Homo sapiens: one gene and its partner. The protein of the gene in region 1 purifies or fractionates together with the protein of each later gene. This does not show direct contact. Each region holds a gene or a part of one and is shown in the gene's direction. Other genes may lie near its edges.

Evidence for each region.
Region 2: the proteins of PAX2 (region 1) and NFIB purify together in Homo sapiens (co-immunoprecipitation; one large-scale study listed by IntAct). This does not show direct contact.

The regions. Positions count from the first base shown.
Region 1 is NC_000010.11:100,751,966-100,755,788, forward strand, and holds part of PAX2 (paired box protein Pax-2), read left to right. Parts: intron 1-3,823. UniProt on the Homo sapiens protein: Transcription factor that may have a role in kidney cell differentiation. Has a critical role in the development of the urogenital tract, the eyes, and the CNS.
Region 2 is NC_000009.12:14,149,822-14,153,644, reverse strand, and holds part of NFIB (nuclear factor 1 B-type), read left to right. Parts: intron 1-3,379; coding exon 3,380-3,500; intron 3,501-3,823.

The DNA.
Region 1 (3,823 bases):
ACTAATAATTCACATGGTGCCTTATTCTGAAATTGGCATCACATATAAAGGATTTTTTAAATATTTTGCAAATGATATGGAATTATCCCAAATCATCCTGAAAACAGCAGGTAAAATTAGCTGGTAGAATGTACCTTGGCTAAAGAAGATTCCCTCTGCCACACTCGTGCTGTAATGTACTGCGAGGCGACCCCAGAAATTATCCCAGTGTGTGCCATCTGTATTAAAATGGTTATTCAGTTATGAACAGGGTAACATAATACTGATCAGCTAATTATACACCCTCCGAAAACCCTCCAGCTCCCTCGGCCTGGCTCAGCCAGGTATTGAAAGCATAGCGATTTGACATTCAGATACCTTCCAAAGGAGCTGGAGAAAGACGCTGGGTGGTTTGGGAGAGGAATAAGCCCTTTGCTTTAAAAGCCAGGAGAGGAGGCTGGGGCAGCTTTGGGCTGAGGCAAGAGTGGCACTTCGGGAGGGGAAGGGGACAAAGCATTGTTTTATGAGCCATGTAGAGACTCAGTCTCTTGGCTGATTGCTGGTCCTGGGCATGAGTTGGAACTGAGATCTCAAGAGAAGAACAGCCAAGGGCCAAGAGTGGCCCTGCTGTGTGCAGTGTTGCTGGGACTGGGTAGTGGTCTTCTGCAGAACATTTAAGAGAAATGCTTGTTGTCAGTAACAGAATTTTCAAGCCTTTGGAGAAACCCAAGTCATGTAGGATTTAGGTAATTTGTTTCTCTTGAATGGGGTAGAGGAGTGGCGCAACAAGTCAGGTGTGGTGGCCCCGTCCAACACCCCCTGCCCCTCCCCTCAACAACATGCACTCCTCATTGGCTGAGATGATTTTGGAAGCTGGCTTAGGCATAAGTTTGGAAATACTTCTATCCTGAAAAGCCATGGAGAACAAGGGCCAGGTGACCCTAGGATCAAGCTCCAGAGGTCTTGAGGTGCACCCACCAGAATTAGGACAAAGTAGACAAGTGAGCCACAAGTGAGATGAGGGTGGGGAAAGAGTAGCCTCAGCTTGACAGCTGTGACAGCTGCAGAACCTGCCCAGCACAGAGCCCTATCACCTGAGGGGCACACAGGCTTCCTTTGGGTGTGGAGAAATAGCCATCTGTGGGCAGATGTTGCTGGAGATGGAGAGGGAGTAGGAGGAGAGGAACAGGTAAGCCACCAACAACACGGGCAGCCTACCCTGGGTCCGTAGTTAGGCTTCATGGCTGGCTTTGTCTACAAGGAGCAGGAAAACTATTCCCAATTTTGCTTTTGTCCAGAATCCTCTCATGGTTCATATTTTGGAAAGAATTCTGGGGGCTTCCCTGTGTGCTGCTGAGTTGGGGCTGGAGAAATCCACCTGGGGAACCACGCTCTCATCTTCATCCCTGTAGGTGCTTTTTGCTCTGAAGAGGGAAGGTTTATCTGAGATGTATTGTTTCACCCAAAAGCCTGATAAAAACAGGATGTTTCTGCTAGTGCTGGTTATATCAGAAACTTTGCCTTTTATCAGTTCTGGGAATTCTCACTCACTGTAGGAAGAGCCCGGAGATTTTCCTGTGTGCACAAAGTGTGGTGCACCGGGGAACGGGTGGTTCTTGAGTTTAGAGCTTTGTTGGTAGTGACCTGCCCACTTGTGTTGGGTACTTTATAACAGTTATGAGTAAGGTTGTGCATGAGCTGGTGGTTGGCAAGAAAAGAAGTCCACACATGCTCACCCACCTGAGCTAGTGGTTTTTCATCTTCTCCTTCCCAAAACAGATGCTGTCGCCACACTTGAAATATGCTGTTATGGTTATAAACTAAATTGCTTTTTTCACTCTTTAAAAATGGTTTTGGCATTCTCTGATTCTGTTGTGATAAAGGCCTGGCCATCCAGCCTGTATTCTCCACTAGCAAATCCTCAGAAATGCCTCTCTGAACCAGAGGACTGGGTCAGGAAGGCCTCCCCACTGCCACAAACCACGTTCAAAAATCCCAAGGCTTGACTGGGCTCCTTAGCATGTGGAATTTATCTGAATCTTTCTAAACATTGGGTTACCAATGGCTGAGCATGGAGTTGCCAGCTTTTTGGTTTGTACACCGCTGCTGTAAAGGGCAGGTGTTTATAAACAGGGGACTTTAGATTGAAACCTGGTGTGGGACATGGCCTGGAGAGGGGAGAGGTGGAGGGAGATCCATGCTACTGAAAAAGGAAAAAGTCGTCTAGTTACATAGCTGAGCAATTGTCTAAGCAGGAGGGATTTTCCTGATTATATGCCAAAATCTTCTGGTTTGGCTGTTACTCTGGGCAGAGAATACACCTCCTTTGAAAGAACAGGCACAGACCCCAAATAGAGTCTGGGGTTACTGACAATCCCCCGAGGGTGCTCTTTTGGGAAGAGCTGACAATAAGGGTGTCACCTTCTAACTTTTTTAGCTTGCCTAACACTCTTTGGAGTCAGGGCACTCTCTGCCCCTAGATCTTTGGAGTGGACCCTGGCAGAATCAACTTCTCACGGATCTCCCACTATCCACACTCTCTCTTAGCCTGTTAGGCTCTAGGTGAGTACATTCATTCTCCTAGCAGTGGCAACCCAGGGCTGTGTTAAGGAATTCCATCCTGTATCATTTGGGTGTCCCTCTTCTGTCATTCTCAGGTCTTTGAGTCATTCTCAGGTCATTGTTCCCCTTGGGTCAGGCAGTGGGGTGACAATGGTCTACTAGTTGTTCGTTCAAAGACCTTTCCAAATAAGCTGGGAGCTATTAATCCTAGCCCCGTGAATGTTGAAGATATGTTCCGGGCTAGGGTCTGTTTCTCCCTCTCTGAAACTCAGGTTCCAGAACATTGCCTATTCTACTCTTGGACCTGGCTTGGCATGAAGCTTGGCCAGAGGGGTGGTACTGCCTACCACATCTCCATATCTTTGTAGCTGTTTGGTGGTCAGGGCTGTTGGTCTCATGGCAAAGAGACAGGGCAAGTTGGAGAGTTCAGAAAAAGACTTCTATCCACAGAGGAATGGCAGAAACAAGGACAGGGAACTCACCTTCTGTGGCCTGAGCCTAGCAGATTGGGCCCACAAATAGCAGACCAACATGCCAATTTCTGTCAGAGAAGCCTCGCTCACCTGTCCTTTCCCAGAGACAGTCCCCTACTGTGAGGTTACCCATCATTGGAATAACATTTGAAACAGGCATGATGGTTGAAATTCTCATTCCTTAAAATGAGCTGGAGTTGTCCTCCTGAAAAGCCTCTTTTTGTTTTTGTAGTTGTTTTAGCCTGGGCTTCCTGGCCCACAGTCCTGTTGGTCTGACTGTCTCCCTGTTGGCTGGTTCTGTGGGTGTTCAGGCTACAAAAGGGGTTTCTGGTGAGAGCAATTGCTGCTTGCCCTGCCTTCCTACCTCAGCTGGCAACTCTCGAGAAGAGGCAGACAGGAGGCACTGGGCCTGACAACAGCTCCAGGTGCATTTCAGAAGGTGACGCAAAGAAGAAAAGAGAGGGAAAACCCAAAATGAATAAATAAATAGTGTCCCAACTGTTCTGAGAACTCAATAAAACAATCACATCAAATATGAAGAGGCATAAATCTTGTGTCTGCACAGGTAACCTACTCAATTGCTTTTATTATCGCTCAGGCTGCCTCCATTTATTACCGTTCATGGCCTGGGCAAAGGAGGCTGCGTGGAGGGTGGTCTCCAGTGCAATCCTACACCCTGAGAGGCAACAATCAGCCCATACAGCCAGAGATTTCGATGGGAGCCCAGGAAGGGCCCATCTGTCTGCATGAAAACCAATCAATAACTCTGTAACCAGAGCCCTTGTCACAGGGAAATGGACAACACAACA
Region 2 (3,823 bases), on another chromosome or scaffold:
TCAGCATTAGGATAGTGATCTCTCTTTTGAATGATATTATCTCCATCTTAAAAGTTGATTTAGGATCAGCTTTTGGAGTGAGGAGAACAATAAGGGAGATTAAAGGTTGGCCTCTAACCCTTAGAATCTGAGGTTCTTTGGTGCTTCATTTCTAAGAGGATATCGGCATCCTCTTAAACATGATTTGCAGCTTTCAGCCTTCTTGTAGCTCCCTGGGAGAGGCGCTAACACTGATCTTTGCGTCTGATGTAAGTTCTTCCAGAGGCTCTTAAGCAGGAATATCTGACTGAGACTTGCTGTTCCCACACACTCTGTCATTAAATAATTTCCATGTGTGTTGTTTTAGTACTTTGGCCGTGTTTGTTAATCTACTTTCCTTTCTGTATCTCCCATTTAGTGTCAGAATGCATACTAAATTTTTACAGTGCTCATGCATAAATCCGTAGACAAATTATTTTATTGCTATCTTTACAAAATTAAAACATAATATGTGTACATATTTATGGAATCCATGTGATCTCTGGATCCATGCATACAGTGTATAATGATTAAATCAGGCTATTTAGGATATCTGTCATCTCAAACATTTATCATTTCTTCATGTTGGGAATGTTTCAAATCTTCTTTTTTTGCTATTTTAAAATATGTAATATATTGTTGTTAACTGTAGCCACCCTGCTGTGCTATCAAATACTGGAAATTATTCTTTCTGTCTATTATAACTGTATGTTTTTACCCATTAACCAATCTCTCTTCATCTCCTCACCTCCCCACCCTCCCCCACCTCTGACAACCCCTTCGATGAGATCAACTTTTTAAGCTCCCATGTATGAGTGAGAACATGCTATATTTGTCGTTTTTATTGCTGTCTTGACACTGCGGAATAATCTTTCTGGAACAAAATTTAGAAAAAAACAATTTCTGAAGATTTTAAAATTATCATTTACTACAAATTACATCTAGTTTATTTATGGGTAAGCAAATTATGTTAACTATGGAGCCATATGTATTCAATAGAAACTATAAATCTTTGCCTAAATATTGCATGAGCTTAATAAATTGAAAATAGTTTATGTAAGGTGGAACCTCTAAGTTTCCTGTTAATAACTCAGGTCTATGAATTGTATCCATTACTGTGATAGGAAGCCAGACAGATTGTTTACTTCACTTGAGCCCCTGAAATACTCCTTCTAGCATGTACCCCACTTCCAGTGTCATATAGAACATGGTTCTAATAATAAATTATAAAACATGCGGTTACTGTGGGATTTCTTACCTCACATTTTTTTAACCTTTGGTGTGCCTCAAGCCACAACAGACATAGCTACATTTTAGCTGTCCAAATAATTCAAGCCATCAGGCACTTAGTTACTCATTGGATACAAGTATTTTCTGTGTAAAGGATGTTACAGTGTATTATATAACATGAACAATCTATCAGAAGGCTGATAGATAATCCAGAAGTTTGGAGCTGTTACTAGTCATGTATATACTGATGTATTTAATTTTTAGTCCAGAAAGGGAGATGTTCATTGTGTATTCCGTGGTTACTTCTCTGTGATAAAGCTTGTACCTCCTAATCATACTTTCTTAAAAATATTTTAAGTTAATCTTAGCCTGCCTAATATTAAAATACAATTCAAAGGGTAGTGAACACATTTAGAATATTCATTAAAAATGAGGGGTAAGAAAACTTCCATAAAAATCTGCAATCCCTTTGGAATTTTATACTCAACTTGAGGCAGATGGGAGAGAGGAGGAGTTTAAGTAGACCACGTATGCTTAGAGTGCATCTCAGGGGCTCTAGAATTTTGTTGCAAAGCCCCAGAGTACAATTTCGTGTGAGCTTTTGAAGGGCTGATTAAGACAGGTAAAGAAATGGAAACTATTCTTAAGGAGTTCTTTGACACCAACCTGCCTGGTCTCCACTTTGCACATTATCTCTACCTATGATTTTGCTTCTGCAGCAGTCCCTGTTTAGAATGACCTCCCTCTAATCTCTTACTCATTCTCCAGAGTCCAGTGCCAGCTATGGCTTTTCGCAGACTTCTTGGACAATTCAAGCTGGTATTGGATTCTTTTTCCCTTGAAATTCTACAGCAGTTTTGGATCATGTCATTAATTTGGACAGTTTCATTTTCATCTATTTTGGTATTTATGTGTTTCGCATGAATGTTTTACTTACCCAGCTTGTTGCCCAATATTTTTATTAAGGGCAATATATGAGACTATTTTGTACACATTGCAGCCAACACCTGCCAGCAGTGGACACAGTCAGTAATTTGTTGAATGAACAAATTTTCAGCGAACAGGTTCATTTATACCTCTTCCTCTGCTTTTAACACGTTTTTGAACTGTTCATCTTTGCTAACCATTCCAGTCTACCAGGGAAGAAGTTTGGAGGAGAAAGCAAAGAAGGAAGGGAACTCACAATGGTTGAGCACGTGTTATACACTAGGCATGATTCTAGGCTCTTATCACTACCTATTTCATTTCATCCTCAAAATAATCCTATGTGTCCGGTTATTATTACTCCCATTTTACAGTTAGGAAACTAGGGCACATAACTTATAATACAGAGGGAGTTTAAACTAAAAGGCTATTTATCTCTCAAGACTCTGCTGATTCTAACACAATATGCTGCCTCACAGCTTTGTTCATGATATCTAAAATTAAATTTAAAAAATGTGAACAGATGTAATTATACAAAATATCATGAGATATTTTGATAAAGACATACAATGCATAATAATCACATCAGGGTAAATGGGGTATCCATCACCTGAAGCATTTATCCTTTGTGTTACAAACCAAAAATTATTATTCTATATTATCAACATTAATATCAACATTAATATTTGAGTGGATTAGAAGTCATGATATTAATAATTATTATCATATCCTAACTGGGAGGCTGTGAATAATGATTTTTGCTTTTTTTTGTGAAACGGTTCTCTGTTTATTTATTTAACAATGATTTGGTTTTCGAGAGCCTAGGTAGTGCAAAGCAGCTTGTTTGGTGTTGCTGAGTGATAGGACTCGTATATTCTGTTTCCTCCAAGGCATTTTTAACTAGCAGAGTGACAGATGTAATGTCAACTAATATAAAGGAGTGAGTAAAGAAGGTTGAGGAATAGGATTCGGGAAATTGGTAACCAGTGATTATAATCTGATTGCCTCAAATTTCCAAGCTTGAACGTTGCTAAGGTGAGCAAGTTTTCAGGTCCTACCCAGGTTGTATGGTGGGTATTAGAGGCTTAAGGTGAAGAAAGTTCTCTCTATCTTTGACCAGAGGCATGAAAGATTCTCGATTATTACATTTGAATAGAGGTCAGAAATACGAATGTCATTCCCAGTGCTTCTTTGTCTTATTCCTCAGCGCCCATAACCCAGGGAACTGGAGTCAACTTCCCAATTGGAGAAATCCCAAGCCAACCATACTATCATGACATGAACTCGGGGGTCAATCTTCAGAGGTCTCTGTCTTCTCCACCAAGCAGGTACTGAAAGAAGGGCTGCTCATATTCTCAAGTGATACACACATAGGTTCGTAGGTGGATGATAGGCAGATAGATAGGTAGGTAGGTAAAGAGAGATGGGAAATAATTTTTGCTGGTAGTACACAGATTTTTAATCTTTCCTGGTTAAATTTATTTGGCTGTTACAAATTAAATGTAATTGTTGTACACAGCAGTTTTAAAAATCTTTTTCAGGGGGACAGGTAACTAGGAAAATATATTAATATGACTTTTGTCCTGTTGTAGGAAATATTAAAATGCTACAAGTTAACAAAATCTTTTGATGGCTTTAAAAATGATGTTGC